Homo sapiens: one gene and its partner. The protein of the gene in region 1 interacts with the protein of each later gene in a pairwise test. Each region holds a gene or a part of one and is shown on either strand. Other genes may lie near its edges. The genes, in order: LAPTM5 and HEYL.

The links.
Region 2: the proteins of LAPTM5 (region 1) and HEYL interact in a two-hybrid assay, tested with the Homo sapiens proteins (one large-scale study listed by BioGRID and IntAct).

What each region holds. Positions count from the first base shown.
Region 1 is NC_000001.11:30,751,039-30,754,846, reverse strand, and holds part of LAPTM5 (lysosomal-associated transmembrane protein 5), read left to right. Parts: intron 1-2,486; exon of another isoform or gene 2,487-3,808. UniProt on the Homo sapiens protein: May have a special functional role during embryogenesis and in adult hematopoietic cells.
Region 2 is NC_000001.11:39,636,755-39,640,994, reverse strand, and holds the start of HEYL (hairy/enhancer-of-split related with YRPW motif-like protein), read left to right. Parts: upstream 1-1,351; 5' UTR 1,352-1,369; coding exon 1,370-1,449; intron 1,450-4,240. UniProt on the Homo sapiens protein: Downstream effector of Notch signaling which may be required for cardiovascular development. Transcriptional repressor which binds preferentially to the canonical E box sequence 5'-CACGTG-3'.

The DNA of each region.
Region 1 (3,808 bases):
CTATTTGTGGACTTGGCCCCTCTAGGGAGGGTTAAATTGAGACCTTGCCATCCTGAGACAGTGCCACGCTCTATTGAGTCATGAGGGCGTTATTACATGAGGGAAGCCTGGTCCGTAGCTTTGGGCTCGGGCATCTTCCTCAGGATGTCAGTGGGTTTGTGTAGAGGATTCTCTGGGTCACCCAAACTTGCACACTTTGGGAACCCAGCAAACTTTCTTTCTTTTTTTAAAAAATCTATTCTTTTTTTCAAAGTTCAGTAACTTGCCCATCTTTTGTGGTTTGATTTGTTTTGTTTTGTTTTTGTTTTTAAGAGATGGGGTCTTGCTCTGTCACCCAGGCTGGAATGCAGTGGTGCCATCACAGCTCACTGCAGCCTTGAACTCCTGGGTTCAAGAGATCCTCCCACCTCAGCTTCCTGAGTAGCTAGGATCACAGGCGCATGCCACCATGGCCAGCTAATTTTAAATATTTTTTTTTGTAGAGACAGGGTCCCACTATGTTGCCCAGGCTGGTCTCAAACCCTTGGCCTCAAGTGATTCTCCTGCCTTGGCCTCCCAACGCGCTGGGATTACAGGCATGAGCCACCGAGCCCAGTCTAGAGAAATTTCTTAAATTGGGTCTCTTGGGTCCTGGCTTTTTGTCAACCTGAAGCACGTTCTAAGTCGATGGTAGAAAGTGGACACCCCCAGAAGACACTTTTGCCCAGAAATCTCTTTCTTCCTGACCCCTCTTCCCCAGAGTGCCCGGAATTCCACTGTCAGAAATGCATTGTCTGGGTTAAAAAACTTAACACCTGCTATGATTTCAACAGTGTCAAAACAGGATACGTCAAAACTGGGCGAGGAGGAAATGTATTTGGGTTCTAGGATAGTGAAAGCTCTATTTTTTCTACTTTTCTGTATTTTCCATATTTGGTACAATGAGCACGTACTTAGAACGGTTTTAGATTTACGAAAATATTGCAAACACAGTACAGATAGTTCTTGCGTCCCCCATGCCTAGTTCCTCTATTGCTAACGTCTCAACGTTAGTGTGGTGCGTTTGTTGCAATGGGTGAATGAATATTCGTGGGCTGTTATTAAAGTCAGTGCTTCACCCCTATTTCCCCAGCTTTCCTCTTACATCCTTTTTCTGTTCCAAGATTGCATCCAGGATGCCGCGTTACATTTAGTCTTCACACTTCCTTAGGTTCCTCTTGGTATGATGGTTTCTCAGATTTTTCTTGTTTTTGATAATCTTGACAGTTCGAGGAGTATTTGTCAGGCATTTTGTCAAATGTTCTTCAACTGGGGTCTCTGGTGGTTTTCTCATGATTAGTCTGGGAATGTGCTTTTGGGAGGAAGACCACAGAGATGATGTGCCAGTCTCAGAACATCGTACTAAGAAAAGGTTCTGCCAACTTGACTTACCACTGTTGCTGGTGACTTTGAGCCCCCGGCTGAGGTTACTCCTTTGTAAAGTTACTCTTTTTTTCTCCTTTCCATGCTGTATGTTTTAGAAGGAAGTCACTATGCTGCTCCAAGCAACTCAAGTTTGATGAATGGGGAGTTCCGCCCCACCTCCTTGAGGGCAGAGTAGCTACATAAATTACTTGGAATTTCTCAAGGAGATTTGTCTGTACTCCCAGTTTATTATATAAATAAATGATTTATTTATATTACAGGGACCCAGGGATCTTTACTGTATGCTTTGGGTTATAATCCAATGGTACTTTACTTTGTGGCTCAAGTATACTACTTTTAAATTGGAAAAAAAAAAAAGTACGGCCAGGTGCGGTGGCTCATGCCTGTAATCCCAGCATTTTGGGAGGTTGAGGCGGGTGGATCACTTGAGGTCAGGACAAAACCCTGTCTTTACTAAAAATACAAAAAATTAGCTGGGCATGATGGCGGGAGCCTGTAGTCCAAGCTACGCGGGAGGCTGAGGCAGGAGAATTGCTTGAACCTGGGAGGTGGAGGTTGCAGTGAGCCGAGATCGCGCCACTGCGCTCTAGCCTGACAGAGTGAGACTCTTTAAAAAAAAAAAAGGTAAAGCATTCAAATCATAGTATTTGAAGAAGGAGTCTCTATTGCCCTGACCTCGTGCAGGTAAGTTCACCCATGTGCCCAGCCCCAGGCCGGGATACAGCCCTGACTCATTCACGGCCTCTGCCCTTGAGGGGCCAGTCTGCCAAGGAAAAACCGACGAGGACAATGGATGACATTGCTGGCTATGATGGGGGCACAGATGTAGGGCTGGAGGTTGGGATTCTGGAATAGCTTCTTGGAGGAGGTCTGAGTCTTAAGGATGAGTAGGGCTTTGCTTGGGCACCTTGGAAAAGAGGTCACGCTGGGCGGGGGGAGTAGCATGACACAGGCTTGGAGGGGAAGGACCCTGCAGTGCTTCAGAGACCTAGCAGGTTTGTCAAGCTGGGTTAGGAGGGGTGGCCACGAGGTGTGTCGGGGAGGAGGGTGGAGAGGTCCCCAGGGGTGGGACCTGCCCGAGTCCTTTGCTTTTACAAGCTTCAGAGCTAAGAAGATGGATCTCTCTTCGGCCTATCAGCTCATTTTGCAGATGGGAAAACAGGTCCAGCAGGGCCCCTTACTTGCTCCAGGACACATGGAGAGATGGGGCAGGAGCTTGCTTCAGGTCCCCCTGCTGGCACACAGGTGTGTGGAATGATCCAGAAAGTGGGCAAATGAGTTCCTTCCCTGCCCCATGGCTGGGGTGGTGTGTCTGTCTGGGAGGCCCTGCCCTCATCCAGCCTCCCACCATTCATTTCTTCTTTATGGTCCAGTTTACGGGAAGCTTCCTCCTCCAGGAAGCTCTCCTGATTTGTCCTCCTTAGAACTCCTGGGGCTCTTTTCTCTGCTCCACTTTGGGGGCAGTGATTTGTGATTGAAAGGAACACAGGCCCATCTCCATTACTTACCAGCAGTGTGACTTGAGCAGGCGGGCACCTTTGTTATCTGAGCCTTGCCTTCCTCATCTGTAAATGGGGCCAGTGGTCCCTGCCTCAAAAGTGATCATTTGGAGGAGACCCTAGCGAAGCCGGGTGGAGGGCTAGCAGGTGAGTGCCTGAAGTGGGCTGTGGAAGAAGAACACAAGGCCCCCCGCCCCTTTTTTTTGAGACTGAGTCTTGCTCTATCACCCAGGCTGGAGTGCAGTGGCGTGATCCTGGCTCACTGCAACCTCTGCCTCCCGGGTTCAAGTGATTCTTGTGCCTCAGCCTCCCAAGTAGCTGGAATCACAGGTGTGTGCCATCATGCCCGGCTAAGTTTTGTATCGTTAGGAGAGATGGGGTTTCACCATGTTGGCCAGGCTGGTCTTGAACTCCTGACCTCAAGTGATCCACCAGCCTCAGCCTCCCAAAGTGCTGGGATTATAGGCGTGGGCCATAGTGCCTGGCCCCACTCCTCTGTTGAAAGTTCATCTGTTTGGGGTTGAAAAATGGGTCCAAACTGCCAGGTGGGGAAAACCCTGGGTGAGAATCTGTTAGAACTTGCCACCTTTATGTCCAGTGCCCCTGGGCTGGACAGAGAGGCCACGTTCTCTGCCACTGCAGCTCTGTGCGCTTCACGGAGGGGTGAGGAGGCCGGTGGGGGCAGGGTGGGAGTTGTAGCCCCTCCTCAGTGTCAGAACTGAGTTGTTCTCCTCACCTCAGGGGTGTGAACCCCAGCTTCTAAAAGCAGGAGGCCCCCATGGCCCATCCCACCCAGAGAGTGGCTGAAGGGCCTAGCCTGGCCTGGCCGAGACTTCTCTGTTGCCAACCTGGCCCCGAGGCCTCCAGGAAGTGAGGCTTTTATTTTGAGCCTAGAGCATCAGCCT
Region 2 (4,240 bases), 8.9 Mb from region 1:
CCAGGGCTTCCTGGTACTGATTGCTCACGACAGTTGCGCCTACCAGTATATATTTGTAAGTCTGTCCGTGTGTATGTGTTTGCATACCTGGCCAAATGGTTGTGTCTGTGGATGTGTGTGGACGGGGGCACAGGAACATTCTTTCCCATCAAGTAATCAAGTGTCCCCCAGCAAGCAGGCCTTGCTGTGGGGATGGAAGCACAGTTATTCTCAGATGACCAACCCGATTCTCCCACTTGAAGGGGTGGCTTCCCTCAGGTCCTGACCTGGTGGCGGGTAAAAAGGAAAAGACCTCTCATATCTAACCCAGCACACCAAGACCTCCTCTATCTCCTCTTCCCTGCCCAAGAAGTCCAGCTCCAGGATGCTCTCATGCAGCTTCCTTTGGAGCCTTAGGAGCTTCTCTGAGGTACTGGGCGCCTGAGGATGACCGGTGAATCTGAGAACTTCCCACAAGTCCCCCTAAGGACAGGGCAGCTAGAGCCCTCCCTGAGTGAACAGTTTGATGGGTTGCCAGAAGCAGAGGCCCCAGGAAGAGAGGCTGGAAGGTATCTTCCCTTTTCCTCTCCTTCTCCCACTTTGAGGCCCTGCCATAGCGTCTAGAAGGAGCCCTTTCCTGGCCTCCTGGCCGCCCAGGACAACTCGACCTCTGGTGAACTGGGAACTGATTCCCAGGGACAACCCACCACTGCCACCACGCCAGGCCTTTAGGGACCTCGGCCAGAGCCCAGCTTTCTCAGATGCGGTGGCCACAACTTCAGCCGTCCCTTTTGGGGGTGACTGCCACCTCTCAGAAGTGTAAGTGTCTTCCCCTTGCCCCCACCACACTATTCCACTTGCTTTGGGCCCCTATGGAGTTGCTGCTGGGGAATTCTTGCTGAGGATCAGGCCACAACCACCACGACTAACTTCGACAAACTTGATGTGTCTGCTGCCTCCAGAACACCAGGAGGCAGGAGCGCGCAGGGTTGACCCTTGCGGAATCCCGGGCATCGAAGCGGCGCCTCTACAGGCCAGCAGCGCCCAGGCGACCCAGGGACAGACGGGGACTCCTGGCTTCCCCGCGGGGCCTCCCAGGGCACCTGCCCAAGGCCACCCAGCGCGCGGCAGCCGAGACAGCGGAGCAGAGCCGGACCTCCCAGCCGTCGATGAAGGCGGCGACCGCCTAGGGCCTTCCCACGGCTCGGCGGCGCGTCACCGCGGGGGCGAGGGGGCGCCTGGGCGCCCGGAGCTGCGGCGCAGGAAAGGGCCCTGGGAAAGGGCGGTGGCGGCGCCCCCGAGGCGGGGCCGGGGCGGGGCCGGGGCGGGGCCTGACTTCCCGACTGGGAGCCTTAGCCGCGGGGCTGAGACCAGGCAGCCTGCGTTCGCCATGAAGCGACCCAAGGAGCCGAGCGGCTCCGACGGGGAGTCCGACGGACCCATCGACGTGGGCCAAGAGGGCCAGCTGAGGTAAGGGCCGGGATGCGGGGACCGAGCAGGCGGAGGGCGAGCGGGGTGGGGGTCGGCCCGACGGGCTCGCCGAGCAGGCGGGCCAGCCCTCCAGCACCGCCTGGGCAGAGGCAGGTGAGCGCGGGGGCCACAGGTGTCGGCGTAGGGGGCGTGTGCGGGCCGTGCCGTTACACGCACGAGTGCCTGGATCCTGCGCGCTCTCGGTCGTGCAGGGCTGGGGATGCTGGCAGGGAGGGAGAGTTCAGCTCGGGGGATCAGGTGGCTAGTGGGTTATCATCTATCTGTTGAAGTGGCCTAGGGGAGGCCATTGGCAGGTTTTCCCTGGAGATCTTAGAAAACTCTCATAGACTGATGGTACTCTGGCCCCTGTCTGGAATCTGCTGACGATGCAGAGTAACCCCATCCTTTCCCAATTTTACCCTAGTTTGGATGCAGTTTTCATGTAGTCCACAAATTATTTCAGGAAGAAGAAAATTTGTCCTCCTTTGAGCAAATTGGAGTTTGGATTTAGGGACTTAGTATTGAAGAAAATAATAAGCGACTTGCAAGGGCCTAGACTCTAATTCCAATGTTCCTCCTATCGTGCCCCCATACTGCCAGTGTCTTTCAGCTCCTGGTAGATAGTCTGACCTGCTTCAAACCTGTCGAACAAACTGCGCTTGTATAGTTCTGCTACCTCGCAGTTCTGTAAACTGTCTAAGCTTCAGTTTCCTTATCTGTTAAATGAGCATGAATAATAGAACCAACTTCATGGAAATATTGGGAAAACCAAATGAGGCAAAGTATGTCAAGGGCTTAGCACAGCACATGCCTAGGTACACACCATGTGATTCCCAGCACCCTGAAAGAGCTGCAGGGCTGACTGGGAGTCTGCAGACCTGGGTCCCAGCCCCAAATCTGCCACCAACTCACTATGTGGTCTTGGGCCATTGGTTTCCCTGACAGAGTCTGTCATCAGTTTCCCCATCAGTAAAACAAAGACAGCAGTGGAAAAGAAAGGGATATACTTCATCTCTCTTGGCTCATCTAGACTTGACTCTCTAGAACAGAATTGGAGGGGAATTCAGTTAATTCTTTCTTTCTTTCTTTTTGACATGGTCTCACTCTGTTGCCCATGCTGGAGTGCAGTGGCATGATCATAGCTCATGGCAACCTTGATCTCCTGGGCTTAAGTGATCCTCCTGCCTTGGCCTCCCAAAGTGTTGGGATTACAGACATAAGCCAGTGAGCCAGGCCCAGTTAATTCTTAGGGATGTTTTTGAGGACATTTTGTAATTTTAGTGCTCTCCAGTTTTCTGAGATCCAAGGATCCTGCCTCAGTCTCAAATCCCAGGAAAATGCCATAATAGATATTCCTCTTGCAGCCTGTACATTTGTTTTTAGGGAGTATAACACAACTCGCTATGCAACGTATTAGCCTTTCTTAATTGTTTAGCAGAAACTGCTATTTAGAAAAGCAGTTATCTTAGCCTGTGCCTGTTAAGGGCCAGGAAAGGGCACAGCACCACGTGGTGGTGGTGGAGCGGGGTCTCAAATTCAATGGCATTGGGTCTTCATAGATCAGAGGCACAAAATTGATGCCAGAGAACTAGGTTGATCAGAGCTGGCTTCTGTCCTCCACAAGTTTGCAGCCCAGTCAGTGACCTGCCAGGTCATAAAAACACCATGGACAGGATGGAAAGGAGACAGACTGTGGGCTGTGAGGGCACTTAAGCAAAGAGAGGTCACTCTTAATCAAAGATGGCAAGGAGGGCTTCTTGAAGATAGTAGCATCTGGGCAACTGCTTACATGAGGCATAAAGGATCAGTGGGCAGTTTTTTCCTATACATACAGCATTTCCTATATATACAGAGCCCATTTTTAGACACTGTTCTTAGAGGAGCAGACCCCTCTGAGGAGAGAAAGCAGCTGGACATCTGGCAGAGGCTGACTTATAGATGCCCCTTTGTAGCACTCACCAAAGGGCCCTTCCCCCAGCAGACATCAATGCTTCAATTCAGGGAGCACTGAACGATGCCTGCTGTGGCCCAGACCCTGGGCTGGGCATAGGGGGCCCAGATGTATCCTGCTCAGCCTCTGCCCTCAGGGAACTCTCAGGGAAGAAGAGCTTCATGTACAAAGAAAGCAGATAAACACTGACAAAGGCCGCAGGACGGAGGCAGCCAGCCTCTCGGGGTCAGGGGCAGGGCGCAAAACCCCCACACTCAGAAACGTGAGAGTAAAGAGCAGGGTGTGTTCCACCATCACTGTGGCATCTGCCTGGTGGCAGTCCTGCCACATCTGTGAAACTCACCCACAGAGCTCTCATCTCAACCTGGCCCCATGACGCAGGATGAGTCCAAACTGAGAGTACAGCCTCTCCTCTCCCTCTGCAAACATCTAATGAGCACCTGCCACATGTCAGACACTGGATCAGGGTCCTGTTCCTGCACAATATAAGGTGGTGGTCTTGGAGTCAGATAGACCTGAGTTTGAATTTTACCACCATTAACTTTGGCCAGTGACTTTTACCCCTTTCTGAACCTCAGTTTTCTCGCGTTCAAAATGGGAATACATTAGCACTCCTGCCTCGCAGGATAAGGTTTGATGAAGTAACATACATAAAGTTACATAGCTCCCTGCTTTGGCACAAAGTAACTTCCAATAAACGTTGCTGTCAAAGCGGTCACCATTCAGTTGGGGGGCAACATATTTATGAGACAGCATGGTCTAATGAAAAGACCGGAAGTGTGAAGACTGGACTTACTGGAGTGATTCTTAACTCCAGTGTCTCTGTCACTCCACCTGTAA